Linked DNA regions of Homo sapiens: region 1 is linked to region 2. The links come from fine-mapping of genetic effects on gene expression. A gene starts in region 2. The other region holds a variant in brackets. All regions are shown on one strand. Distances are between the middles of the regions.

The links.
Region 1: its variant is fine-mapped to the expression of SCO1 in whole blood (TOPMed, PIP 0.92).

The regions. Positions count from the first base shown.
Region 1 is chr17:10,664,944-10,678,396 of GRCh38, forward strand. It overlaps SCO1 (synthesis of cytochrome C oxidase 1), which reads right to left. Exons shown (of 6, transcript NM_004589.4): 6 at 7,531-13,453. It also overlaps a transcript of MYH3 not described here. Among named protein-coding and RNA genes, the nearest start is that of MYH3, 14 kb to the left of the region's middle. The variant T/C (reference allele first, on the strand shown) is at 8,123.
Region 2 is chr17:10,690,089-10,707,387 of GRCh38, forward strand. It overlaps SCO1 (synthesis of cytochrome C oxidase 1), which reads right to left and starts at 7,445. Exons shown (of 6, transcript NM_004589.4): 1 at 7,147-7,445; 2 at 5,653-5,743; 3 at 2,676-2,873; 4 at 1,784-1,876. The coding sequence starts at 7,419. It overlaps ADPRM (ADP-ribose/CDP-alcohol diphosphatase, manganese dependent), which reads left to right and starts at 7,506. Exons shown (of 4, transcript NM_020233.5): 1 at 7,506-7,579; 2 at 14,822-15,439; 3 at 16,350-16,466. The coding sequence starts at 14,839. RefSeq lists enhancers at 6,422-7,245, 7,246-8,070, 7,364-7,658, 7,374-7,423 and a silencer at 7,544-7,873.

The DNA of each region.
Region 1 (13,453 bases), 27 kb before region 2:
AGCAGATAAATTAGTCTGCCAGCTATATATCAGGCATGGAAGGGAAAGATCAAAGATCACTGTGAGGTTACCAAAGGGATGAAATTGGGAGCAAACGGCATCATGATAATAGAAAATATAGAAGAAAGGTGGCCAATTTGGGAGGTAGGGGTTGGTTAAAATGTAAGCCATAACCTTTATTTATTCATTTATTTTTATTTTTTATTTTTTTATTTTTGAGATAGAGTCTTGCTCTGTCGTCCAGGCTGGAGTGCAGTGGCACGATCTTGGCTCACTGGAACCTCCGCCTCCTGGGTTCAAGCGATTCTCCTGCCTCAGCCTCCCGAGTAGCTGGAATTACAGGCACCCACCACCATGCCCAGCTAGTTTTTGTATTTTTAGTAGAGATGAGGTTTCACCATGTTGGTCAGGCTGGTCTTGAACTCCTAACCTCCAGTAGTCCGCCCGCCTTGGCCTCTCAAAGTGCTGGGATTACAGGTGTGAGCCACCGAACCCAGACTATAACCTTTAATTTAACACTGAATTTTTGTTTAAAGCAGCGATTTCAAACCTGGCTATCCCTTAGAATCACCCGAAGAGCTGTTTGTATAATCAATTGGTTCTGGAAGAAAAGACTCTATAGCAATAGAGAGGATAAAATACTTAAGAATAAACTTAACAGGAGATATGCAAAACTTTAAACTGCTGAAGGACACAAAAGTAGATATTCCTTGCTTTGGATAGGGTGATTCACCATCATAAAGATGTTAATTATCCTCAAGCTAATATATAAATGTAATGCAGTCCCAATAAAAATACCAACACTTCCTTTTTCTGGAGCTAGAAACTTGATTTTAAATTTTGTGGATGTATGGTAAAGAAAATACTGAAAAAAGAAAAGCCACAGGAGGACATTCTGCCAGATACTAAAACATACACTCTAAAGTCTACATAATGAAGAGGGCAGTGCTATGCATGAAGAGACAGACTGACCAGCGGAACAGCATAGAGAGTCCAGAAGGAGGCCCGGATACTTATGGAAATGTGATACCTGAAATGGCATCTCAAGTCAGTGGACCAAAGATGGACTCTTTAATAAGTGGTGATGAGACAACCAGATGGCTATTTGGAAAAAAAATGAATCCGGATCCATACCTCACACATACACCAGATTAAATAACAAATAGATCAAATCAAAATGCAAAGCCAGGAAACAGGCACTAAACTAGATCATGGTAGATTCTTTTATAATCTGGAAATGGGGAAGGCCCACCATGACTCAAAAGCAGTAAAATAAAAAACAATAGATAAATCCAACATCATAACAATTAAAAATCTTTATAGGAAAATTAAAATAGAGCCAAAAGACATGACAGGCTAGGCACAGTGGCTTATGCTTGTAATCACAACACGTTGGCCAGCTGAGGTGGGAGAATTGCTTGAGCTCAGGAGTTCCGGACCAGCGTGGGCAACAGAGTGAGACCTTGTCTCTACAAAAAAAAACCAGCAGGCATGGTGGTGCATGCCTACAGTCCCAGCTACTTGGGAGTGGCTCATGCCTGTAATCCCAACACTTTGGCCAGCTGAGGTGGGAGAATTGCTTGAGCCCAGGAGTTCTGGACCAGCGTGGGCAACAGAGTGAGACCTTGTCTCTACAAAAAAAAAAAAAAAAAAACTTAAAAAACTAGCCAGGCATGGTGGTGCATGCCTGCAGTCTCAGTCTCAGCTACTTGGGAGGCTGAGGGGGGAGGACTGCTTGAGCCCATGAGGCCAAGGCTACAGTGAGCTACAATCACGCCACTGCAGTCTAGCTCTGGCAACAGAGCAAGACAAAAACAAAAACAAAACAAAACTAAAAGACGTGATAAAATGGAAGAAAATATTTGTAATTTACATCACAAAGGGCCAACTTCCTTAATGCATAAATAATTCTTAGAAGTTACGAAGAAAAAGACAAGGAAAACAACAAAACCCTGCAGATAGCAACAAATGGCAAATAAACAAGCAGACGGTTTATAGAAAATGATACACAGAAGGGCTTTAAACATATGAAAAATGCTTACCTTTCCCTATTTAAGAAAAATGCATATTGAAAACACACTTTCTAACCAATCACATTGGAGAAAATCCAAATGCTGGGCAAGACATTCTGTTGGCAAAGCTGTCATAACACACACACTCACACTTTTCTGGTGGGTGGAAAATTGTGCAACTGCTACGGAGGATAATTTAGAAAAACAAACTAGCAAAATGATACGTGCAATTTCCCTTCCATTGGGAAAACCACTTCTAGGAACCTACGGTAAGAGATATTTTCACAAATACTAAAATACTGTGAGCATAACGATATTTATTGTGGCACTGTTCATAATAGTAAAAGATTGGAAACAGCCTATGTTTATTGACAGGAGGCTAATTGAATAAATTATGTTATATCCACATGAGACAATGTTATGCACCCTTAAAAAAGAATCAGAGGCCGGGTGCAGTGGCTCAAACCTGTAATCCCAGCACTTTGGGAGGCCAAGGCAGATGGATCACTTGAGGATAGGAGTTTGAGACCAGCCTGGCCAACGTGGTAAAACCTCATCTATACTAAAATACAAAAATTAGCCGGGTGTTGTGACAGGCGCCTGTAGTCCCAGCTACTTGGGATGCTGAGGCAGGGGAATCGCTTGAATCCAGGAGGCAGAGGTTTGCAGTGAGCCAAGATTGTGCCACCACACTCCAGCCTGGGTGACAGAGCAAGACTCTGTCTAAAAAAAAAAAAAAAAAAGAATTAGAAAGGTCTCTATGAGCTGAAATAGGTTAATTTCCAGGATATAGCGTTAAAAAAAAAACAGTGTTCTGGAATGTAATATTTTGAGACAAGAACATCTAACATAGGAAGGATAAATCAGACACTATTGAAAATGATTACTTATAGAGGGTGAATGGGACCCAGGAGAGGAGTGCCTTCTTATATGATTTTGACTTTTGAACCATATAAATGGTTTACAGATTTGAAAATAAATGTAAATATAAAGGAAAAAGCAAATCCTGAAATTGAATATGAACAGAACATTAATAAATCTAACATATCAAACTGATAACATAACTACACTTACAAAAGACTTAATTCCTGTCAATTTTGAAAAGTACTCTGTACATTCTTAGTGAGATATATTCAAAGCATAAAAAGAACTGCAGTGGCTGGGTGCGGCGGCTCACGCCTATAATCCTAGCACTTTGGGAGGCCAAGGCATGTGGATCACCTGAGGTCAGGAGTTTGAGACCAGCCTGACAAATATGGCGAAATCCCATCTCTACTAAAAATACAAAAATTAGCTGGGCGTGGTGGCGCGTGCCTGTAGTCCCAACTACTGAGGAGGCTGAGGCAGGAGAATCGCTTGAACACCGGAGGCAGAAGTTGTAGTGGGCCGAGATCACACCACTGTACTCCAGCCTGGGGGACAGAGGGAGACTCTTCTATCTATCTACCTACCTATCTTTCTATCTATTCAAATCTACAGCCTATTTTAGGTTGAAAGAGATCAAAGAGATAGAACAAAATGCAATACTACATGAACCTTGGTGAGGTCCTAGGTTGAAGAGAAAGAAGGAAAAAAGGAAAGGAAAAAAAGAACAATCTGATGAGACATTTGGGGGACAAATTGAAGAAATTTGAACATAAACTGGATATGAAATGATACTCACGGAATTTGTTAATTTTCTTAGGTGTGTAAATAGCGTTACAGTTACGCAGGACACTGTTGCTTACTTATAGGAGTTTTAGACTGAAATATTTGGAGAAAGGTAACTAATACAACACACTGCAAACAAGAAGAAAATAAAGGAGTTTACATCAGTAGTTTTCTGATGCTTTAGTTTGCTTTTCTTTTACCACAAGTGAGGTTGAACCTCAGCTTACACACTTGCTTGTCATTTGTAGTTCTGTGAATAGTCTTCATATCCTTTGCCCTTTTTCTCTTAAGATGTTAATGTTTTTCTATTTTAAGAACTTTCACATAGCAAAGATTTTAGTAATCACTGTGTATATTACAAATATTTTCCCCATTTGTTTCTTATCTCCTCTGAACCTCTCTACAATCCCAGGGGTTAGGCAGAGCAGGTGGAATTATCCCCACTTGATTGATGGGGAAACTATGACTCAGTGGGGAATGTTTGCCCAGGGCAACAGGGCTGTGGGAAGACCTCATGTCCCAGGATGTCCTGCTGCCCCGCAGGGATGTGAGCCCTAATAGCATCTTTTAGGATTACAGGACAAATAATTTTCCCTATACAAATTAAAATTTCTTAAATATTTGGGCCTCAATTTCCTCCTCTCTTACCAAAAAAGTGGAGTTGAGGCCGGGTGCGGTGGCTCACACCTGTAATCCCAGAACTTTGGGAGGCCCAGGCAGGCAGATCACTTGAGGTCAGGAGTTCGAGACCAGCCTGGCCAACATGGTGAAACCCCATCTCTACTAAAAATACAAAAATTAGCCAGGCATGGTGGCTGGCGCCTGTAATCCCAGCTACTCAGGAGGCTGAGGCAGGAAGGCTGAGGCAGGAGAATCGCTTGAACCTGGGAGATGGAGGTTGTACTGAGCTGAGACCACGCCATTGCCCTCCAGTCTGGGTGACAGAGTGAGAGTCCATCTCAAAAAAAAAAAAAAAAAAGAGGAGTTGAACTAAATGACCTCTTAAGTCATCTTCAGGTTGGGCACGGTGGCTTGCGCCTGTAATCCCAACACTTTCGGAGGCCGAGATGGGAGGGTCTCTTGAGCCCAGGAATTTAAGACCAGCCCTGGCAACATAGCCAGACCCCATCTCTACAAAAAATAAAAAACAAAAAAATCAGCTGGGCGTGGTGGTATGTGCCTGTAGTCCTAGCTACTCCAGACGCTGAGGTGAGAGGATTGCTTGAGCCTGGGAATTTGAGGCTGCAGTGAGCCACGACTGCACCACTGCACTCCAGCCTGGGTGACAGACTGAGACCCTGTCTCAAAAGGAATAAAGAAAATAAAATAAAAAATCATCTTCAGCTCTGCTATCTTCTGATTCTGTGATTTAAGGCACAAGAGAGATTTACTTGGACCAAAGCACTGGCTTTATCTCAAAGCGTGTATGTATGTTGAAGGTGGGGAGGCAGAGGCAGCTGGGTTATCAGTCCCACGTGTGACATTCTCCAGGGGGAATGTCCATGACAGTACATTACCAACAACATTTCCTTCATAGGCTTGAGTTCCGAAATGCCTCTCTCCAACCAAAAGCAATCAAGCACACACTGCAACAATAAACTCCAGCATTTCTGTTCCATGGCCAAAGAGTAGTAGGTCAAGGGAGATACTACTTTTACCCACAACCCCTGCAGGCATCATCAGTGGATCACAGCACCCAACATTTGAGCCTGGCCACGGCTTCATAATCATACTTAGTGCTGTATTGTAGGAAGCAAATGACTTGACTGAAATTGACCCAGAGATAAACTATCTTACTGACACTAGACTATTTTTCCTAATGATCTTTTTTTTCACTGTCAGTTTCTCCAAGTGAAATTTACAGTGTTTTGTTTGTTTGCTTGTTTGAGATGGGGGTCTCACTGTGTTGCCCAGGCTTGTTTTGAACTCTGGGGCTCAAGCAGTCCTCCTAGTTCAGCCTCCCTAGTAGCTGGGATTGCAAGCACATGCCACAGTGCCCAATTAATAATGACTCTTTCTTACTGCAAAGTTAATATATGTTCATTTAGGAAGATGTGGAAAATAAAAAGCCATCCACAAACACACCACTATTATTAATGCCTGTTAAGGTTTGGGTATTTTTTGTGCTTATGCAAACAATGGGATCAAACTTCTACGGCTTACTTGCTCAAAGTACATATTGGATATCTTTTCAGATCATTAAATATTAATCAATAGCTCTATTTTAATGGTTCTACGGTACCCCACTTATGAATGTACCACTGTTTTATCTGCTGTAATTGTTTTTGTCTGCTTGTTTTTTGAGATGGAGTCTTCCTCTGTCACCCAGGCTGGAGTGCAGTGGCGCGATCTTGGCTCACTGCAACCTCCAGCCCCTGGATTCAAGTGATTCTCCTGCCTCAGCCTCCCTGAGTAGCTGGGACTACAGGCACGCACCACCACGCCCAGCTAATTTTTTTTGTACTTTTAGTAGAGACGGAGTTTCACCATGTTGGCCAAACTGGTCTCGAACTCCTGACCTCAGGTGATCCGCCCGCCTTGGCTCCTAAAGTGCTGGGATTACAGGCGTGAGCCACCATGCCCGGCCTCTGCTGTATCTTATGGATGCCCTAGAGTTGGGCATCTAGGTTGTTTTCCATTATTTACTATTTCCATGATTATTACAAAAATACTGCAGTGAACAAATTCTTGTGCATATCTATGATTCTGTTAATAAATGCATAAAGATGGAATAGCTGGCTTGCTGTATATCAACAAATTGCTACCCAGAAAGACTGCCACACTTCACATTCCATCGCTTTCCATGTGAGAGTCCATTTTACCCCCATCCTCAATGGGTAACATCATTCTTTTAGTGTTTTGTCAAACTGAGACAAAAATTCCACTGTTTGAATTAAATTATTAACTATTTGTATTCCTCTTTTCTGAAGCTGTTTGTGTCCTTTGCCCTGCTTTTTCTCAGGGTCATTTTTTTTTTTTTTTTTTTTTTTTGAGACAGAGTCTAGCTCTTGTCGCCCAGGCTGGAGTGCAGTGGTGTGATCTCGGCTCACTGCAAGCTCCGCCTCCCGGGTTCATGCCATTCTCCTGCCTCAGCCTCCTGAGTAGCTGGGACTATAGGCACCGGCCACCACGCCCGGCTAATTTTTTGTATTTTTAGTAGAGACAGGGTTTCACTGTGTTAGCCAGGATGGTCTCGATCTCCTGACCTTGTGATCCGCCCGCCTCAGCCTCCCAATGTGCTGGGATTACAGGCGTGAGCACCTGTAATCCCAGGGTGGGAACACCCGCGCCCAGCCAGGGTGTTCATCTTTTATTTCCTTATGAATTTGTAAACACTGCTTATATATCGGTGATAGTAACTCTTTGTTATATATTTTTGATCAAGCCTAGTAATGGTTTACTTTATGCTTTCTGCCTTTGCTGTCATGCTTACAAAAACCATCCCTACTATTTTAGTCTGACTTTGGTGGTTACAAAAACAGGCTCATTCTGAACCTCCAGAGAAAGAAAGGGAGGAGGCAGTGGGTATTGTAAAACTCATGTTCATTTTAAAGGAGGACACAGACTAAGAACCTAACTTGTTTCATTTCATTAATCACTGTTCCAATATTTTTAATAATCTTGATCATCATACTATCTTTGTTACATAGTAACGTTTTACATAATATGGATCTATTCCATACTTTTATTTCCAACTGGATCTTTCTGTTAAATGCTACATAAGTACTACACTTTAAAAAAAGTATTATGGCTCAGCAATATAGATTACTATTGATAAGGCAGGTCTTTCCTCCTTGGTCTTATTTTTCACATTTATTTTTCCAAATCTCAGAATCTTTCTGTTGAGCTACAAAAAAAAAAGACACTGTAATTTTTAAGTAAGGTTTATTGAGGTATGTATATTACAATTCACCCTTTTAAAGTGCGCAGTTCAGTGAGTTTTCACAGATGTATGCAGTTGTGCAGCGACCACTACCAAGACACAGATCATTTTTACCACTTCCCCAAATCCCCTCCTGCCCCTGGCAATCATTTGCCACTGCAATATTATTAGGCCTGTGTTGAAGACTTAAGTCAGGAGAAAACTGACATATTTACATTGAGTCTTCTCACCAAGGAACAAACTATTTTCTTAATTAATAGCTCATCATTTTTTCCAAAATTTTATAATTTTCTTCCCCTGGATCTGAGTCATTATTACATTGATTCTATTTATTATAGATTCTGTGTGGTTATTGTGAATTTAGTAATTTTTAAATACAGTAGGCATTGATTTTTGCATATTTACAACTGGATGCTGAGTAGATACATAAAACACTCAAAAGAGAGTTGAAGTTTAGGTGCACTAGTTGGCACTTTGGGGCCTCATGTCTAAAAGCTGCCCTAATTTTTCTTTTTTTTCTTTTTTTTTTTTTTTGAGATGGAGTCTTGCCCTGTTGCCAGGCTGGAGTGCAGTGGCA[T/C]GACCTCAGCTCAGTGCAATCTCTGCCTCCCGGGTTCAAGCGATTCTCCTGCCTCAGCCTCCTGAGTAGCTGGGACTACAGGCGCCCGCCACCACGTCTAGCTGATTTTTGTAATTTTAGTAGAGATGGGGTTTCACCATGTTGGCCAGGATGATCTCGATCTCTTGATCTCGTGATCTGCCTTTTCTTTATCTTGTCTGGTTATGTGCATCCCAGAGGCACTCTCCAGGGCCTACTTTTTATATCCCTCGTACTCAGCTTAACATAGGTATTCCGCAATGTTGACGTCGTCAATCAATCAGTGAATGACTGTCTTGTGCTGTGATCCCGCACGTTCCCGACAGGGCTTTCTGAATGTACGGGGCTGAGGCTGGTACAGGGAAAAGTGAGCCATACAAAGGCCTGCCCTGCTTCGGGCACTGAACGCTTGCCTGTCTCCGTTAGGAATGGAATGTAATCCTTGCAGGGCTCTCTGCCCCACTTTCTTCTGTAACTAAGACGGCCTTAGCAGAGCCTGGGCTGACAGGGAAGCAGGCAGTTAGTCTCTCAGTCTATTGCATCAGTGGTTCTCAGCAGCCTACTGCACTAGGGCCAACAGAGATCAAATGATCCTCAATCAGGTTTCAATTGAGTATTTGAGAATGCCTACATGGAAAGACTGCACTGAGCCCCGATAAGGCCCCACAGGGTAACCAAGCAGCATCTCTCCCTGCTTTTTGATCATATTATAACAACTCGATGGAGAAACGCTTGGTATACTGTGCTGAATAGAAGTTCTGACAGGGAGTGACAGTCGTCTTTGACAAAAATTTCAAAAGTGGGGCAATTAAATAATTATCAGAAAATGGAATTTGTTTATTTGAGAGACTCTTCAAATTGTGTTTCATGGGAGCGAAATTAAATAAAGAGCTTCCTGGAGGGGGAAAGATTACTTAATTCATTATTCTTTCTTGACTTTTTCCCCTTCCCTATTGGGTAAAAATTAATAGACTCTGTGGTATTGGGGGTTGAGGAGAATCCATGTGCCTAAGACTGAGGTGGGGATCTTGTTAAAATACAGACTGTGGGCCAGGCGTGGTGGCTCACATCTGTAATCCCCAGTACTTTGGGAGGCCAAGGCGGGTGGATCACCTGAGGTCAGGAGTTCAAGACCAGCCTGGCCAACATGGCGAGATCCTGTTTCTACTAAAAATACAAAAATTACCATGCACGCCACCGGGCATGGTGGCGGGCGCCTGTAATCCCAGCTACTTGGGAGGCTGAGGCAGCAGAATCACTTGAACCAGGGAGGTGGAGGTTGCAGTGAGCCAAGATCGCACCACTGCTCTCCAGCCTAGGCAACAAGAGCGAAACTCCATCTCAAAACAAACAAACAAACAAACAAAAAAACAGACTGTGATTGAGGAGAGCTGGAGTGGAGCCTGAGAAGCTGCATTTCTGCTAAGTACCCCAGTGGTGTGACACTGCCGGACCACAGACTACACTGAGTAGCAAGGCTGTAGAGGGAGTCTGAGTATTAGCTTTGCTACAAACTTGTAGATAATTCACCACTTGGGCCCTTCTTCCTCTATACAGTGAGGACATACCAGATGGTGTGTGACACGTCTGACATTGTGATGGCGAAACCACCTCAAGGTCCTCACGAAACCTTGGTGGCCAAGGCCCTTGGTATGACCTCTTGAGACCAGGAGGCTCTCACAGGCATCTACAGAGCTCAGCCTTGGCCCCTTACCTTTGCATCATCCTTGAATGGAAAAAGGATCACGGGCTGCCAACTGCAGACCCACCCAGGAATACTTCAGATGGCTCAAACACAGTGGTAATGTCCCTGGCTTACTCCATCAAAATGCAGTGAGCATCATCAGAGTGGTCCGGAGCTTGACTGACAACGACCAGCTGCTGCTCACCACAGCAGCCAACAAGGAATGTGCCCACTCTCCCCTTCAGTTTGCTCCTCCTCAGTGTCAGGGTCCCAGGGCCCTAGAAGTCTCTAAAAGCCACTGAGCAAACTTCTTTGCCTCTCAAAGCTGTGGCAACTTTAGGTCCGTCCTCCAGCTTAGGGGTGACTAGAGCGATTGATTTCCTGCCCCTTCAACTGAGGGTGAGAAGACACTGTCTCTGGGGCCTAAGTGTGGCTACTCTGCTCTGCCACACCACACCTGAGGCCCACTCTCCTACCATCTGCCTCCTGCTGTTGCTGAAGCTTGCTGACACTTTCTCCACGCTGTCTTCTTTCAGGCCTTCTCTCGCCTGGGCAACCTGATGCTGGCATTAGCTTTTATCTCTCTGCCCAAGCTACAGCAAATTGCTGAGAGCTGTCCAATGCATTCTCCACATCACAGACTTGCTTTCTTTCAAGACTGCCTTTTGCAGGGACTCTTTTTCCCCTCTACTTTTCTTTTGGAGTTATAGGGTGCAAACAGTAAAAGGCATAAATCTTAAGTTCAAAGTTTAATATGTTTTTATGTATGTAAATCATCACCCAGATCAAGCTACTGAACATTTCAATGGCTCTGGAAGCTCTCCTGGCACCCCCTTCTGAATTACTAACCATCTCACCTCCTGCCAGAGTTAAGCACTATTCTGACTTTTAACACGATGGGTTAGTTTTCCCTGTTCTCCTAGTATCATACTTCATCCTAACACAATTATTCCTGTTTTACAAATTTAAAGAAAAAAAACACCCAACAACGAGGACAAATGCGTTAGTCTTTTTAAACTGGTCCAACCTGAATAACGCCACCCTATGTTTAAGAATGGGAAGAGAGGCTTGGCGGGGAGGGTTGTCTTTCCCTAGGGTTGTGTCTTCCTTGAACTGGGTGCAAACATGGACAAAGTCACATGTATGACATGGAGACAACACATCCCCACAACGAACTGCATCATAGCTCCTTGAAATCAAAGGACCAAATTATAAACGAGTTTACACTGACTGGATATTTGATATTAAGCAAAAACCAAACGACAAAATCCAAGAGCAAAAACAAAAACCTTTTTGCTGTGCTGATGAAACTGTGGTTGTTTTTTTCTTTCTTTCTTTTTTGTTTTTTGAGACAACTCTTGTTGCCCAGGCTGGAGTGCAGTGGCGTGATCTCGGCTCACTGCAACCTCCGCCTCCCAGATTCACACGATTCTCCTACCTCAGCCTCCCGAGTAGCTGGGATTACAGGCACCCGCCACCACGCCCGGCTAACTTTGGTATTTTTAGTAGAGACGGGTTTCTCCATGTTGGTCAGGCCAGTCTCGAACTCTCAACCTCAGGTGATCCACCCGCCTTTGCTTCCCAAAGTACTGGGATTACAGGCATGAGCCACCGTGCCCAGCCAACTGTGGTTGTTTTTAAAGGACAAAGTTGGTCTCTTTCAGAGGCACATGCTGGGAATGGGCTGGGGTGGCAGTGGGTGGGGGGGTGCAGACAAAATTAAATGGTGGTAATCACTGAAGCTTGCTGATGGGTACATCAATTAGTTAACTATTCTACTTTTTGAATAAGTTTCCAAATTTTCACAATAAAAAGGAAAAAAAGAAAACTCAAGTTTTCTTTCGGTTAAATACCCACATCAATGTTCTCATGAAATAGTGCACAGAGTCAGTGACTTTAAGGCCCCTTATGAGGGGGACATTAGCATCCTCATGTTGAAGATTGAAAGGAAATACCTCCAAGTATTATTTCTTGGTAGTGGAACAACAGTGATTGAAAATTTTCTTCCTTCAACTTTTCTGTATGCCAAACTTTCTTTACTGAGGATATAGTATAATTACGGAAGAAGAGCCAACAAACTTTCAAATACATTGGAAAAGTATATAGAAAATAATTACCCCTATAAGGTCTAAAGGTGTTATTAAGGAATATGTGGCTAAAGAGGCTATTACTTGAATCTTGTTAATGAATAGAAATAACCGTCCATTTTGTTACACAGTAATATAACCCCTAACTGGTAAGTAAAAAGCACAAACTAGGCCGGGCGCAGTGGCTCACGCGTGTAATCCCAGCACTTTGGGAGGCCAAGGCGGGCGGATCACCTGAGGTTGAGAGTTCGAGACCAGCCTGACCAACATGGAGAAACCCGTCTCTACTAAAAATACAAAAATTTAGCTGGGTGTGCTGGTGGGCGCCTGTAATCCCAGCTACTCGGGAGACTCAGGCTGGAGAATCGCTTGAACCTGGGAGGCGGAGGTTGCAGTGAGCCAAGATTATGCCATTATTGCATTCCAGCCTGCGTGAGAAGAGCGAGACTCCATCTCAAAAAGAAACAAATAACAACAACAAAATAAAAACCAAAAAAAAGTACAAACTAATTGGGTAACAAATGCTCGCATGGGTGACTGCTCTTTTAAAGGTAGCTCATATACACATACACAAAGATTTAAATGGTACTAAACAGAAAACCAAAAAAGGTTTGGGAGATTATGGATGATTTGAAAATATTAATGTCAATTTCTTTTAAACATAAATTTAAGAACAATAAAAGCTATTTTAAAGGATCTTATGCAGACGCATTTACAATTTAAAATCATTAGCCTCCCAACTCGCATATTTTACTGGTAGTCAGTAAATCTCACCTCTTACACTTAAGATATCAGCTGCTTCATGAACAGCCAGACACATGAATACATTCATGCCTACTGCATTGATAGGATTCTTATACTTTTCAAATAAACAAGTGGCATTTCTTAAAATATTAATTCTATTGAAGAGTCTAGTGAAAACACTGTAACCCACCCAGGTAAAGATTTGCAAGGGATATTTCACTGAAACACAGCCTTGAGGCCGGGCGTGGTGGCTCACACCTGTAATCCCAGCACTTTGGGAGGCCGAGGCGGCGGATCACCTGAGGTCGGGAGTTTGAGACCAGTCTGACCAACATAGAGAAACCCAGTCTCTACTAAAAATACAAAATTAGCCGGGTGTGGTGGCACATGCTTGTAATCCCAGCTACTTGGGAGGCTGAGGCAGGAGAATTGCTTGAACCTGGGAGGTGGAGGTTGCAGTGAGCTGAGATTGCGCCATTGCACTCCAGCCTGGGCAACAAGAGTGAAACTCTGTCTCAAAAAAGAAAAGAAAAAAAAAACAGCCTTGCTTTTGATTTCCCAAGATTTGCAGCTGAAAAACGTTGCCCCACTGGCATACGGAACCTCCGTTTTGGTTGGATTCACACAGTCACCATAAGCGCACGATAGCAGCAGAACAAACAGGAACCTACCTAGAAATTGGGACCCGAGTTTTGCGCCTTAATTCTCCGAGACTGTCCCCTTGTGCATAAACAGGAACATCTGGAAGACGTCACCTCTAAGGTCCCCTTCCCCACTTCTAACATTCTGACTTCAAGC
Region 2 (17,299 bases):
TTAGTAGAAGAAAACATAGGGGAAACACTTCAGGACATTAGTCTGGGAAAAAATTTGATAGATAAGGCCTCAAGAGCACAGGCAACAAAAGCAAAAATAGGCAAATGGGGTTATATCAAAATAAAAAGCTTCTGCACAGCACAGGAAACAATAAACAGAATGAAGAGACAACCTGGAGAATGGGAGAAAATATGTGCAAACTATTCATCAGACTAGGGAGTTAATATCCAGAATGTACTCAATCATCTCAACACCAAAAAGACAAATAACATTTTTAAAAAGGGCAAATGATCTAAATAGACATTTCTCAATAGAAGGCATACAGATGGCCAACAAGTATATGAAAAAATGCTCAACATCACCAATCACAAGGGAAATGCAAATCAAAACCACAATTAGGTATCTCATCCCAATTTGAATGACTATCACCAAAAATACAAAAAAATAACAAATGCTGACAATGATTCAGAACAAAGATACCTCACACACACCATTGATGGAAATGTAAATTAGTATAACCATTGTGGATAGCAGTATGGAGGTTCCTCAGAAAAGTAAAAACAGAACTGCAATACAATCCAGGAATCTCACTACTGGGTATATATCCAAAGGAGATGAAAACAGTATATTGAAGAGGCGTCTGCATTCCTATGTTTACCACAGCACTAATCACAATAGCCAAGATATGAAATCCAACAGTACTCATCAACAGGTGAATGGATAAAGAAAATGCAGTATACATACGTCATGGAATACTACCCAGCCATATTAAAGAATGAAATCCTGTCATTTGTGGCAATGGAGATGAGCCTGGAGGATACTATTAATATGTTAAATGAAAAAAGTCAGGCACAGAAAGATAAATACTGCATATTCATACGTGGAAACTAAAAAAGTTGATCTCACAGAAGTAGAGAGAAGAATTGTGGATACTAGAGGCTGGAAAGGGTTGGGGAGGATAGGGACTCTGTACCCCATAAATATGTACAACTGTTATGTGTCAATTAAACAACAGTTACTTTGTCATAGTAAATGTTTTATTTATCTTTAAGACAGAGTCTAGCTCTGTTGCCCAGGCTGAAGATCAGTGGCGTGATGTCAGCTCACTGCTACCTCCGCCTGCCAGGTTCACGCGAATTCTCCTGCCTCAGCCTCCCGAATATCTGGGATTATAGGTGTGCACCACCGTGCCTGGCTAATTTTTGTATTTTTAGTAGAGACGGGGCTTCACCATGTTGGCCAGGCTGGTCTCAAACTCCTGACCTCAGGTGATCCACCCACTTTGGTCTCCCAAAGTGCTGGGATTACAGGCCCACCATGCCCGGCCTGTTACAGTAAATGTTTTAAATTTATAAAACATGCACTGAGTTCAAAATATGTTTGTATTTAATTATTCATCTTTAATCTACCAATGAACATACTTCCAGAATATATGTTTGTTCTGATTTTACAATGCAGAGAATGAGTTACAGCGCTGGAGTTAGAAGCAATGTGTCCTTACTCTCAATTCAAGGCTCGATTAACTTAGTTGATACATGAAGGCCAAGTTCAAATCCTTTCTCTGTGACAAAATATAAAGAGCACTGCATCAGGAATTGAGAAACCCATTTCTTACTTACGCACTAACTATCCATAACAATTCCTAGCTTCACCTTTTTATTCACCCATAAAACTGGTGATAATACCATTTGTCCTATTTCACAAGGCACTGTAAGGTTCAAATGAACTGATATTCCAAAAACTTTAAGGCTAAATAAATGTAAAGTATTATTTAAAAAAATACCTTTCACATAATTTGCGATGGCTTCTTTTGTGTCCCTCTCTGGGTCAATGCTGATGAAAAGTGGAGTTAGATCTGGCAGAGTTGTAATGCTATCTGAAAGAGAGTTCCAATTAGTCCGTATTCACACCCTAAGGGAAAAGACAAAGAAAACCAGCAATAACAGGAGAGTATAGGACGTGCTGGACAGCTAGGTGTTTTGAAAGCAGATGGACATCTTAACATTCAGGTGAAGAGGAAGAGGACGGGGAAGGGGATGGAGAAGGGATGGCCTTTAGGAGGAGGAGACCCATATACAGTAGTATTATCTGTGGTGGATAATACAAGGTTACATATCCTATCAAATGCCTGCACCAGCACATAAATGTTCTTCCCCTGGATAATGTCATGTGGCTATCTTATCTCTGAATCCACTCCAGTATCTGTAGTTTTTTTCACTCCCACCATATCTCAAGGGCAAGAAGGTAAATTGTTAATAAGAGCTGAATATCCTGAAATAATTCACTGTATGGAGGAGGCACCCTTCCTTCTTACTAGTACTAGTAAAATGCCACAGACTGCAGACCATTGCAAAGATTTCCTAATTTAATTGTCACAATCAGTGGGGAAGAGGCAATGGCAGCATCAGTGATGCAAAGGAAGGGACACAAAAGTAGAGTTAAGGGAGACCACACTGACATTTTTAAGTGATCTAACATTTAACATCAAAACAAGCTTCTTTCAGTGGAGAATAAGGTCACAAGATTCAAAGCAACAAACAAGCCAAATGCTGAGATTTTATGTTCTTACAAATCACATAATTGCAAAACCCCACCTAACAATAATACAAGGGTGTGAAAAACCTGGTAACATGAAGTAAACATATACTTTGTTTAGTTAGTGATGGCTTTCTTACCTATTTCATCCACGACTTGAATCATCTTTTCTAGTTCTTCTGGACAGACATCAGGGCAATGAGTGAAGCCAAAATAAATCAATAACCACTGACCCAAGTAGTCCTTGTCAGTTTTACGCTCCCCAGTATGAGTTGTGAGGGAAAACGGTCCCCCAAGTAAAGGCTTGCCGATGTGTCGCTGCCGTTCCTTCTCTAACTCTTAAGGAGACAAAAACATATCGACACCAAAAAAAAAGTCAATTTAACCAGAGGTACTCAAATACCTGACATATGGCCCGTACTATGCTACTCATGGTGGGGGCACAAAATGTGGAAAAAACAGTTTCAGTTTTCAAGAAGCTAAAAAAATCTTTTCAGAAAAATAAGCACAAAACATTAAAACAAAATCAAATGAAATGCTATGGTATGTTGTAAAAAAGGAAAAAATATTTCTTCTTTTTCAGGAACAATTCAGTCCTAAGCCATTAGCTGTGTCCATGCTGGGGGCAGGGAGGGGCTGCAGTGGCCTAGAGCTGAATGTCTAAACAAGTGGGGTGCGGTGGGTGGCCTGGCATAGGGAGTCTGATCCTGAGGGTGCTAAGGAGGGCAGCTGGGTGGGGAGGTGATAGTGGTGACGGGACCTTAGTTACACACAGGAAATTGATGAAATAAATGAGTATATTAAAGAGAAGAGAGTTACAATAGGAAACAAGAGTCAACTATGGAGAGAAAGAGAGCTAGGCTGAACCCTGCAGTACTGCAAATACACTGCAGGTACTAGTGTGAACTTCTATCTATATAGATATAAATAAATATAGATGTACATAAATATATCTATTTTCTCACCATGTCCACTGAGAGGACCAGGGAGCAGACACACTCCAAGAACCATGAGCCCAGAACCTGACTTCTAAATATCATTCTTCACTAAAAGGAAACAGCTTTTTGGAGAAATGGCTGATACCAGGGTTGCGGCAAAGAAAGTGTAAAATGAGGCTGGAACCTCTTGTTGTGGCAGAAGGAAAGCAGAACTTAGAGAATATTGGAGACGTGTCAAAGACACAGAAGCCTGCTCCAAGGGGGCTCCCGCTGATCAATCTGGGACAACTTGGGCATCAAAATAAAGAGAATATGGATTTAAACTGAATGAATATATAGGAAACAAGTCCACAGATATAAATAAATGAATACATTGATAGTGGGATGGGGAACAGAATATGTAAGTATACGTATGTCAATACAAATCATGAAACACCATTAATTACATGAGTAACTTTTCAGTAGAAAACCTGTTAGACACACATTAATCAAGTGATCAAACTGGACATTATCAGTAATGGGACAACTGGTACTATGTGGTATCTGACCAGATGCACGGAGAATACAGCATCACTTTTGTGATATTCCTGCCAAAGGTACACAACCCGAATGACCTGAATGAGGAAACATCAGACAAATCCAAGCTAAGGGGCATTCTACAAAATAACTCTCCTGTAACTGTCAAAGCTGTCAAGGTTGTGGGAGTCAGTTAAAGCCTGGGAAACTGTTACAGATGAAGGAGGCTAAGGTAAACAACTAGATACAAGGTGGTATGGTTCTGAAACAGATCCTTTTGCTCTGAAAGACATCAAGTGGCAAAACTTGGAAGACTGAACTGTAATCCAGCCTGGGCAACAGGAGTGAAACTCTGTCTCAAAAAACAAACAAATAAACAATACCCTGAAGATTATCTGAACACTGAACAGCAGCAAAATTATCAGCGTCAATTTTCTAATTTTGATGGTTGTATTGTGGTTATGCTAGAAAAGGTCCTTGTTTGTAGGAAATACACCAAAAAGTGTTTGGAGCTAATGACGCAACATGTCAGCAAATAAATACTCTCAAATTATTTAGGAAGACTTTTCAGATTATTTAATAATACATTTTTTAAATAAAACAAACGTTAGAATTGCACTTGAAATTCCAAACTAAAGTCAAAAAAAGCTTCCATATTCTAGAATTTTCCCGCCACAACTTTCCTAGCTTTTGTTTCTTTGTGAAACTAAAGAAACTTACTGCTTATTAGACTATGAAAATCTTACCCAATACTACTTATTATGCCAAAGAGTCTCATATATATGTATGTCAGTACAAAACTTAACACTGCTAAGTTCCTAAAGCCTATGAATTCCCAGATTTAATCATTAACCTTTGTATATAATGTTATCAAAAGAGACTCCAAAGAATGGAAAGATTTAAGCAATACTTTAAAGATTTACCTAAAACCTCTAAACCAAATCTTAAAAGTCCTAGGATATTCACTAAAATGCAAAGTTCTTATAAATAATTTCTAAATATTTCAAGATGCTAATCCAGAGCAGTTCCTGGCATTTCCTGACCAGGCTCTTTTCACCTCCCCCTCATCCACAGAGGGCATGCAGTATCTACTCGCACTATGCTCCTTGCCTGATCTCTAGGAAGCCTTCTCAAATCTCAAGGCTGGGACTTGCTTTTGCTCTCACAACATGGTAAGCTTCCTTCTGGCCTGGCAGAATCGCATCTAGTAAAATACTTTACTTCTGTGTCTGTTTCCCTTCCGTGTGCACCTCAAAGGCTCGACTACATCTTACTCATCTTCGTACCCTCCAGATTTCATCTTGCCCAGTCAAATCTATCCACAGTATATCTTTTAACATTGTTATGCAGTGGTATCCTAGCTTGGATCCTGGAACAAATAAAAGACATTGATAGAAAAACAAGTGAAATCCAAATACAATCTGTAATTTAATAGTTGTGTGCCATTTAAAATTTCTTAGTCATGAAAAATGTGTCATGGTTATACAAGATGTTAATATTAGGGGAAGCTGGGTGAAAGGTATGTAGAACCTATGCTATCTTTGCAATTTTTTGGTAAATCTAAAGTTGTTTCAAAACAAAAAGCTAAAAAACAACAAAAAAGGTGCTAGTCCATAGCCAGGAAGACCTTTATACAGGGCTGAGCAGATGATAATCTACTTACTCTCTGCCTTTTCTTTCTTGACGTGCTTCATTCCAGCCAGTAAAGCTCCTCCAATAGCAAATGTGATTGCTAAAGACTTCCAGGAAACAGGCTACTGGGGCAGGGATTTCAAACATAAAAATTCTAGTAAGATGCAAACATTTAACCATACAAACTTATTAAAGTAGTTTTTAATATACATACACACAGGCCATGATGTTAAATGTGCAAAATGTTTCAGGGATGAGAAAATGCTCAAAGTTTCTGTGGATGCAGTTAGGTCTGGGATCTGAACTACAAAGGCATTCATCTCCAGGGGAAAGTTCCCTAAGTCAGTTCTCTTCATGTAAATAAAAAAAAAAAAAAAAAAAAAAAAAAGCTCAAGTACCACGATTGTTACTATGTGTGACCCTAGCTCCAGTAATGACTTTAAAACCAATTATGGCCGGGCGCGGTGGGTCACGCCTGTAATCCCAGCACTTTGGGAGGCGGAGGCGGGTGGATCACCTGAGGTCGGGAGTTTGAGACCAGCATGGCCAACATGGTGAAACCCCATCTCCACTGAAAATACAAAAATTAGCCGGGCGTGGTAGCGGACCCCTCTAAACCCAGCTACACGGGAGGCTGAGGCAGGAGAATCGCTTGAACCCGGGAGGCGGACGTTGCAGTGGGCCGAGATAGGGCCACTGCACTCCAGCCTGGGCAAAAGAGCAAAACTCCGTCTCAAAACAAAAACCAAAATCCAAAAACACACACACAAAAAACAATTATCTGCTTATGCTGATACTGAGATAAATAGACCAAACGAAATTTGGGAGGTTAACTTAACTCTGGCTTCCAGAAGTAACAATGCCAAAGTAGAAGAGGAATCTAAAAGTGGAGCTTCTTGCAAATTACACCCATTATTTCTTTGTACCCTTATTCAACTCCCCAAATGAAGATGATGTTGGCCAACTAGACTAGGCCTAACTCATTAACCTTCCCGTAGCTCCAAAAACCCACTTCTCTTACCACAGGGTAGTGGCTCTCAAGTTATTTCTGGGTCAGAATTAGAACTCGAGAGAACCCCAAGAAAAAGGCAGATCCACACATAACTAAGTTCCACTTTTTGTTTCAATTTCAACGTATACATGGAACTCTGGATGGGGCTCAAGTGACAAATTATAAAAGTCCTCTGACTTCTCAATCACGGTAAACTTTAGGTTCATACCCTTAAGAAAACCTGAAACTTAATTTTTTTTTTTTTTTTGATGGAAACGCTAACATAAAATCCAAGTCGGGGCATCCAGCCACGTGGAGAGGGTGTAAAGTCTCAAGTTCTCTGTGGAGAACTGGGACTACCCGCAAGGCACGGGAAATGTAGGATGAAATTCCATGACCCAGGTAAGGCGCGCAAGCTAAGGACAACTTTAGGGGAGGCGGAGTAGTGTCTGAGGTTACGACCAAGTGGGATGTGGCCGCTGGGCTGGCCGACAGCCGCGACGAGCACCAGAAGGGTTCCAGGTGTGCACTCACCCCGGGCTTCGAGGGGCGCGTGGAGTCTCCGGGGCCCTTCTGCGACCACGGGGGTGGCGGCCTCGCAGTGCTGAGGGGCCGGGTTCCCAGGCAATAGCCAGGGCGCCCCGAGGCACGCCACGCCTCCGCTTGCCGCGCGCAGAACTGCCTCAGCAAGACTCTCGCAGTCCCCTCGGCTGGGCCCCAAAACTCGAGTCCGCGAGGCAAGAAGCGCCAAAGTTGGCCACCCAGAGGCCGCATAACTCGTCCGGGTACTAGGACCAGCATCGCCATGAGCCTCGGAGACCGGGTCTCCTTTGACCCTCCCCGCGATTTCCGGTAGCGTTCCGCTTCCTCCGGAAGTCGGAAGGAGTCGCTCTGTCCGTCCCGCTCGTTGGTGGCGCTGTTACATAGCCCGTAGTCAGAGGCCTTTCAGCCCAGGGGCCGGCGCACGGTAGGTAGTTCCCTGCGGCTGGAGGCGGGTCTGGCGCGGGCTGGGCGGTGCTGCGGGGCCGCGGGACAGCGGAGCGCCGGGAAGGGGGCTGCCTTAGGGGTCCAGGTGCGCGGCTGGGCCGAGGCAAGGCGGCCCCAAGCGCTGGGGGCCCCCGCTTTGGTCGTGGGCTTCGGTGACCACAGCTAGCTCCTCGCGCCGGGGACACCCCCACCTCGGAAGAGAGAACACACTGCCTAGAGACCCACGGGACTGGGCAGCCCCCATAACCCTACCTTGTCTGGCCGACTTTGTCAACCTCGTCCTGCCGGCCAAGAGGAAGTGCCAGAATGTTGACTCCTTTACATCTTTGAAATAGAAACCGACCCATTGCGATTGAAATAGTCTTTAACTTAAAAAAAATTGCTAATTAGGATAATTTGAGTGGTTAGGGCGGTCTGGAAGAACTTTAAATGCCCAGCGCTTCTAGTTATTTAACATTATAATGTAACCTAATTAATAAAGCATAGCAGTGTGTAAAGAAATATAGACAGCATGATATCCCATCCGTTAACTTAGTCTTCCTGGGTCCCAGTTTCTTAAAATACTCTCACGGACTCCCTTGCTCCCTACAGTTTCGTTATTTGAAGTTTGTTATGGGTTCCTCATCTGGAACTGCTTATGTTCCTTGTTAATGAGGCCAAGAGCATTCGTAGGTTTTTCGTTCTTTGTGAAAGTCTAACTTCATTTCATCTGCCTTTATTTATATCTTAATATCCGCAATATTAACCACTCCCTCCCCGCCCCTACCTCGGTGGTTGCTTTACAAAATACAGAGAAATAAAAAAAGGAAAATCGTCCTCTAATTATCTTCCTTAACTACAGATCCCGCTCCTGTGTGGCTTTTTTTTCCCCCATGGGACCGACTCTGAGTAGGAGAAACTCGTGCTCTGATGATTGTTGGACCAGAGCATGGTTGGTTTGCTTGTTTTCTATGAGTTAGCCAAACTAGCCAACTGTTCTGTTCTCTAACCCAGTAACGGAACATAGTGTTACCTGTGTTTCTTGATTCGCGGTTGGACTAGAATTTTCAGAAATTTCTGCCAAAGTTCTTAAATGTTTGTTCAGCACTTCAAGTCGTTAATCAAACTATTTTTTTCTATCTTATAGTTGCCTGTGGGTAGGATTTTTGCTCTTTTATCTTTGTGTATTTGTTTGCCCAGGGATAATTTTTTCTTGTAATTGACAAAAAGACATAAAAGTACCTTGTGTAGTCAGGCAGATAGCATACAAAATTATTGTTCATCTCTGATTGCCCAATTGTAGGTTACCTGATCAGCCACCCAAATTAAGATTGAAGTCAGTGTTTCTACCTGATCTATTAAATTTTATTTGCTAAAGTGCTTCTTTTAGTAGCAACTTCTTCATATTAATTTTATAATATTAAATAAAATGCTATCATTGAAAACAGTTCTTGGGGCCAGATGTGGTGGCTCACGCCTGTAATCCCATCACTTTGGGAGGCTGAGGTGAGTGGGTCACTGGAGCCTAGGAGTTTGAAGCTGCAGTGAGCTGTGATCGGGCCACTGCCTTCCAGTCTGGGCAACAAAGCAAGACTCTGCCTCTAAAAAATAAATAAAATAAATATAAAATATAGTTCCTGGCTCAAAGTAGGTGTTTTATAACTGCATTTTGGATGAATTGCTAGTAACACCTGAGCCTGATGGCAAGGACCCATGAAACTTTAGTGCCAGAAGGCGCCTACAGTGTTATCCCTTATAGACCTTATCACTTTTATTACTGCTGTGAAACCACCAAAGTCACCAAATGAGGTTTATGTTTTGTTTTCCAAGTTAGATATTTTTCTTTTCTTTCTTTTTTTTTTTTTTTTTTTTTTGAGACAAAGTCTCCCTCTGTCGCCCAAGCTGGAGTGTGCAGTGGTGCGATCTCAGCTCACTGCAACCTCCGCCTCCTGGGTTCAAGCGATTCTCTTGCCTCATCCTCCCGTGTAGCTGGGACTAGAGGTGCGTGCCACCAGGCCTGTCTAATTTAAAAAATATATATATTTTTAGTAGAGACAGTGTTTCACCATGTTAGCTAGGACGGTCTCGATTTCCTGACATCGTGATCTGCCCGCCTCGGCCTCCCAAAGTGCTAGGATTACAGGCTTGCGCCACCACACCCGGCCCCAATTTAGATATTTTTCTTGAGAGAAGCAGGGCATGGATTAGTATCATCTGATATTGGTTCTATCAATAGTGATCAGATTTTGTTCTTGACATAACTTTAGGCTGGTTTGACTGGGGACAGCTAGGCCCTAACTTTTGTGAACTTCCCAGCACCCTAATGTGTTTACTTCATTTTTGTTCCAGGCCCCTGCCCCTTGTGCCTAACTCCTAACCACAAACATTTCCTGCCCCAACTTAACTTTCCTTTTGGTATGGTATCTGCGTAGAAAACATATGCTGCACCCTTAGGCTAGGAGCCTCTGTTACAATAGTTTCTCCTAACAAAGTCTCTCTTTATTAATCTCTAGACTTTCCCTGCTGCCCCCTTCACCTTTGACAATAGAGTGAAGAAATCATACTCTTTTCAGGGTAGAGCTACTTCTTTTACAAGTTCATTATTGATGCTTGAAGGCTTTCCACAAGGAACTTCAGCCTTCTGCCAATCTTAAGTATTGGAAAAGTTTTATTAGTATGATCTTATAGCAACTTTTCAGTAATTAAGCATCCTTGGGTATGGGAGGCCTGAGGCAGGTGGATCACTTGAGCTCAGGAGCTTGAGACCAGCCTGGGCAACATGGCAAAACCCTATTAGTATGATCTTGTAGTAACTTTTCAGTAATTAAGCATCCTTGGGTATGGGAGGCCTGAGGCAGGTGGATCACTTGAGCTCAGGAGCTTGAGACCAGCCTGGGCAACATGGCAAAACCCTATCTCTACAAAAGAAAAAAAAAAAAAAGCCAAAAAAAGTCAGGTGTGGTGGTACATGCCTGTAGTCTTAGCTACCAGGGAGGCTGAATTAGGAGGATCACTTGAGCCCAGGAAGTCGAGGCTACAGTGAGCCATGATCGCACCACTGCACTCCAGCTTGCGCAGTAGAGCCAGACCCTGTCTCAGGAAAAAAAAAAAAAAAAAAATCTCTCATGCCTAAGGTAGTTTTCTCAAAATACTGGCTGCTTATCCTGTACTATGACATGATAGGAATTTTGAGAGCAACTCTTGTAAACTTTTCTACATTATTCTCTTCTATTAAAATGTTGCAGTAGTTTCAGTTATGAGGCTCATTAGACAGATTTTCAGATATATAATTTTAAAATTATTTTCTTAACATGCGTATAGTACTTTATGGTTTAGAGATTTACAGAGTAATAGTTTACTGTGATCATAACTCAGTTGAAGCTCACGATAACCTATTGAGGGTTATTTTGCTTCAGGAAACACGAGGACTATAATTCAGTTCTGGGTTTTTCATTTCAAAGGGTTCAGCACTTCATAATACCTCTTTAAAACTTAGACAGCGTAGCATGTAATAAATGGTGCAGGCAAACTTTGAAAACAAAGTTCACTAAAAACTTGCCATTCTCCTTTCTATTCAAAAGCGAAATATTTCCTTAGGTCTTCTAATTTTTCCAGATTTGATTTTCTCTAAAGTTTTGAATTTTCTTTTTTAAAAAAACTTTATGTATACTTTTTTTTTTTTGAGATGGAGTCTCGCTCTGTTGCCCAGGCTGGAGTGCAGTGGCGCGATCTCGGCTCACTGCAAGCTCCGCCTCCCAGGTTCACACCATTCTCCTGCCTCAGCCTCCTGAGTAGCTGGGACTACAGGCGCCTGCCACCACACCCGGCTAATTTTTGTATTTTTAGTAGAGATGGGGTTTCACCATGTTAGCCAGGATGGTCTCGATCTCCTGACCTCGTGATCCGCCCACCTTGGCCTCCCAAAGTGCTGGGATTACAGGCGTGAGCCACCACGCCTGGCCTATATGTACATTTTTAAACACACATAAAAGTAGTTAGAATAAACTTCATGCACCCATTTCTAGCTTCCACAATTATCCTGTACTCACTGATTTTTTTGTGTGTCTGTATTTGATGGAGGGAGGGAGCTATTTTGAAAACATTTCCTGACATTAGAATGCTTATTAATTCTAAGTTTCCTCACTGGAGGTGGCTTTGAGTTTTTGATCTCTCTGTTCACCAGGACCAATCTTTCTGAGCTCCCCCTACATGTCCCTGAACCAAGAAAGGAAAGGCTAAACTCGCCAGGAGAGTCAATTCCCTGACCACCTGGTTCTTTTTGCACTGCCGTACTCACTTCTGATCCTATCTTTCCCTGAATATGTTTCTGAAATCTGAAATGGCCCCAAATCAGAAATTTGAGCACCAACATGAAGCTCAAAGGAAATGTTAATTGGAGCATTTTGGATTTTGGATTTTCAGATCAGGAATGCTCAACTGTTAAGTATATTCCAAAATCTGAAAAAGTCCGAAATCTAAAACACTTCTGGTCCCAAGCATTTTGGATAAGGAGATACTAACCTTATTTTTAAAAGCCATGTATATTCAACACTTTGGATCTCTCTTTTTACCCCAGAACACATCGCTGTTTTGAAGTGTGTGCCCCTTGGTGCTTCTCTCCACATTAACTTTCCTTAAAAATTGCCAGTTCTTAGGATAGCCTTGAGTTTTTCTAAACTGAACTTGTTCCAGTGGAAGGTGTATTTGAGAGGATTTTGGTATCAAATGACAGAAAATCAATTTGATTTAGCTTTAAGCCCAGGAGAATTTATGTGCTGACATGTGTAACTAAATGACCAGTGTTCTAGCAGGGACAGGTGAATTTAGGTATTCAACTAATGTTTTCAGAAATCTCCATCTTTCCATCATTCAGAATTGTTTCTTTCTATGTTGGATTTCTTGTCAGTTCATTTTCTCCAAAAATTGAAGCCTTAGTTTATCAGCGTTTGTAGTAGTGGCAGTGCCTGTCCCAGGGCTGATGCTTATTGTGACCCAGGTTGAGTTACATGCCTACCCCTAACTGGCCAGAGGAAACTGGGTTTTTACGGGCCAGGTCTGGGCCATGTGTCTGCTATTTCACTTCCCCAGCCAGTGAATGGGGTTGGAGGTCAGACCACAAGAACTGAGAGTGGGGAATTGGATAAATGCCTAGAGAAAAATTGGGTGCTGTCACCTTAAGAACAGGAAATGAATGCTGGGTAGGCAAAAATAACAGCTGTCCACTGGAGAGAAGATCCAATTCATTGGGACTAAATCCCCTCTAGGAGATCCACAATACATATTATCACCATAAAGGCTCTGAGTTTAAAGATAAAAACAAGCTCACTTGGCAGGGGATAAGATCACCCCCAGAAATAGTTTTCTCTTAAGAGTTAATATAACTCTTAATGGTTAATATAACCTTAATGGTTAATATCACCAAGGTTAATACAACCTTGGTGATAATATTCATGTTATATACTTGCTAAGTTATCTTCTGATTTGATTCTTCTATTAATCTGAACTTGGAATCGCAAATATTTGAAACCTAACATAAGGCTAAAGATTTTTAAACTGACTTAGATGGATTTTTGTCCTGTAATTGTATTGAAGTTACCCACTTTTCAAATCAGATTACCTCTCATTTATACACCCTCATACATACTGACTTGATATCTAATGAGATTTTCAGGTAGGGGCTGCAGGAAGAAATGGGCAAATTAAAAAAAAGTATGAGAACACCATGTTTAAGGATTTCCATCTCTTTCTGGTGCTGTTACCTATTTTAGGGCTAGTTATACCCAACCAGATTAAGGAAGAAAGTAGCTGAAACTCATAATTAGGTGGATTAAAGAGTGTATCATTAGTAACAACAGTTTTAGGATGAAAAGAGGCCCCTAATTCTCAAATAAGTCAAATTGAAGTCTTATCCTTATTCCAATTGTGGAGTTGTTCTTTTCATCTCTTATAGGAGTACTCTTAGAGTTGGGATTTTACATGTCCACAGAGGATTAAGTAGGAACTCTGTAGATATATTTGTCAAATGACTAGAGATGGGGAGTCTGAAAGTAATTTTAGAAAGTCAAATGAATTTTTAGGTTTTAAATAATTCAGACACCACAGCAACAGTTTATTACTATAGTCTTTATGACAAAAATCGTTGACAATTTAGAATCTTGGCCTTTGAGTTTTGTTTGAATCATTAGCGTTCTGGGCTCTTTTAAGAGATTATAATTTACAGTTTAAACAATCGAATAATAGTTTTTTCAAGTTTAAATCTTGCTCTTTTTGGCCACTGAGGCAGGGCAGAGATCATTTGTAAGAAGAAAAGATTTCATATTTTTGGTTTTGATTGTGGGGTAGCTTAATATTCAAGTTAAAAAGAAAAAAAAATCCTGGTTCAAATTAGGATCCAGGGCTGGGTGTGGTGTCTCTTACCTGTAATCCCAGCTACTTGGGAGGCTGAGGTGGAAGGATTGCTTGAGCCCAGGAGTCCACGACCAGCCTGGGCAACATAGTGAGACCCTGTCAAAAACAAAAACAAAAACCACAAACAAAGCAAATTTTAATCCCAGCTATTGAAGAACCGGGAACCACTGCTCACAGAAATGATAATAGTCATGTCAGTTAGTTTTTGTGCTGGATTTTTGTTGTTGTTTAAAATTATTCCTCTCCTTTCATATCTGCATTGCCTCCCACTCACCTATTCAGATATAAAATATGAGAAACTGGGTGACCTACCCACCAAGGAAGAGAAAAGATTCAGCCTGACACAAAATAACCCATAACAGGAACCTTTTACAAAGTACATACAGTGAATGAATGTAATACACAGCTTTCCAAAAAAAAAAAAAAAAAAAAACTTGAAGTTTTGATAGAATTATTTGGTGTTTGTGGGACAGGGGTATATGTGTGTGCGTGTGCATGTGTGTTTAAAATGAGTATTTCTTAAAAATTAGCAATTATTCCAGATTTAAATTGGGCTTTATTAGCATTAGAATGTCTATTTATTGATAGGATAGTACCTTTTGTAAATTGTTACTCTTCTGAAAGAGTTTATCATCTGTTTTACAGAAGAGAAAGCAAGTGTTTTAGAGGGTTAGTAGTTTAGACCTAAGACTGTTGGGCTCTAAAGCCCACGTACTTTTTCCTGTACCAAGCTGCCTAATGAATTAACCTTTAACATTCCCTTTATCATTTTCTTAAGTGAAATTGGGAAATTAAAACGTTTATAATTTAGTTATCGTCTTTTTACTTTATTTAGAAACCTGTTTGGAGGTTATGGATGATAAACCCAATCCTGAAGCCCTAAGTGACAGTTCAGAGCGTCTTTTCTCCTTTGGCGTCATCGCAGATGTTCAATTTGCAGACTTAGAAGATGGCTTTAATTTCCAAGGAACCAGGCGGCGATACTACAGACATAGTCTTCTTCACTTACAGGGTGCCATTGAAGACTGGAATAATGAAAGCAGCATGCCCTGTTGTGTCCTTCAGCTTGGAGATATCATCGATGGATATAATGCACAGTATAATGCATCCAAAAAGTCCCTAGAACTTGTTATGGACATGTTCAAGAGGCTTAAAGTTCCAGTTCATCATACATGGGGAAACCATGAATTCTATAACTTCAGTAGAGAGTATTTAACACACTCTAAACTTAACACTAAGTTTCTAGAAGATCAGATTGTACATCATCCTGAGACCATGCCTTCAGAAGATTATTATGCTTATCATTTTGTACCATTCCCTAAATTCCGGTTCATTTTACTTGATGCATATGACTTGAGTGTCTTGGGCGTGGATCAGTCTTCTCCAAAATACGAGCAGTGTATGAAGATATTGAGGGAGCACAATCCAAATACGGAACTGAATAGTCCTCAAGGTGAATTATTCCTTTGAGCTGAGAATCTAATAGATTGTCTTTAAATTCTTCAGCTACCTTTTATTCAGCAGGAAGATGGACAATTAAGGTAAAAGTATATTGTCACTTGTTCAGGGTCAGGATTTCTCACAAGCCTTCTCACATGGATTGGTTACAGTTGATTCAAGATTGATTTAACAGATATTTTAAATGCCTATTTTAGGCCAGGCACTTTTTCTAGGGGTAGATATTCCGAGCTGTAAACAATACTAACAATATTACTTTTTTGATGGATGGAATGGAGGGAACAAACACAGTACGTGGGCAAGACAGATGATAAATGAAACAGAAACAAGATTATTTCCACGGTCGTAAGTGCTGCCAAGGAAATAGAGTATGATGTTATAGAGTGTTACGGAAAAGGATTAGGGTTGCTATTTTAGATTAGGTGATTAGGGAAGGTCTCTCCAAGGAGAAAGATATTTAAGCTGAGACCTAAATGACAAGGAGGAGTCTCCCTTGGAATGAATGGGCATAGGGAGTTAGCAGACTGAGGGAAAAACCTGCAAAGGCACTAAATGGAGTAAGACTTGAGCATTGTTGAAGAGCACAGGAAAGGGCCAGTGGGGTACAAGGTGATTTTAGAGTGTAAACGGGGCCAAGAATATGTAGCGGCTGAGTGGACTTAAGAAGTTTGCATTTTTAATATAATGGAAAGCCAGCGAAGTAAGCAGGGGACTGTCAAGAGTGAGATGCAGTGTGATATATATATATATATTTCTCTAAATGCTTGTGATTTCCTATTTTAAGTTGATTGTTGCTAATCAGATATTCCTAAAGAAAAAACAAGTGTCCCTACATTAACTAAATTTGAATGTCCAAATGAGGGGAAAAATGACTTGATGGGGCTAACTTACTGAATTCATTTCAGGACTTTCTGAGCCCCAGTTTGTCCAGTTTAATGGAGGATTCAGCCAAGAACAGCTAAACTGGTTGAATGAAGTGCTAACATTCTCTGACACAAACCAAGAAAAGGTGGTGATTGTGAGTAAGTATTTAATTTATCTGATTACACTAACATTTTAGAGATTGGGAAAAGTTAGGCGTTAAAGCATACTAACAATATTTGTGTTTCGATATCCTCTTTCTATAAAATGGACACTTAGTTTAAAAATTTCTATTGAGAAACCACCTGAATATAAGATTAACATTTAAGGATGAACCAGGAAAAGGTAAATAACAGAAACATCTTGCCATATATTGGAGCCTGTGAGTTGGCCTTTTAGGTTCAAAGTCGAATTTCCTCAAATGAGATCAGTTTATGAAGTAATTTCTTTTTTAAACATTAATATTATTATTGAAATCATTGTAGATTCACGTGCATTTGTAAGAAATAATTCAGAGCAATCACTTATATGCTTTGCTGTTTCCCCCAACATTAACATTTTGTAAAACTTTAGTATAATATCACAAGCAGAATATTGACATTAATACAAAAATAAAAACTCCAGAAGTTTGGCTTTTTCTAAGTTTCTTTTGTTTTTTGTTTTTTGAACCTTCTCTCCATAAGAGAAGCAAGAACCCAAAGGTGAGATGACTTCACCATGATAACTAAGACATAAAAATTACCAAGAAACTTGACTCAAAATTAAGAACAAGCTGAATTCAGCCTGGCCAACATGGTGAAACCCTCTCTCTACTAAAAATACAAAAAAGAAATTAGCAGGGCATGGTGGTGCGTGCCTGTAGTTCCAGCCACTTGGGAGGCTGAGGCAGGAGAGTTGCGTGAACCGGGAGGTGGAGGTTGCAGTGAGCCAAGGTTGTGCCACTGCACTCCAGCCTGGGTGACAAAGCAAGACCCTATCTCAAAAATAAATAAAT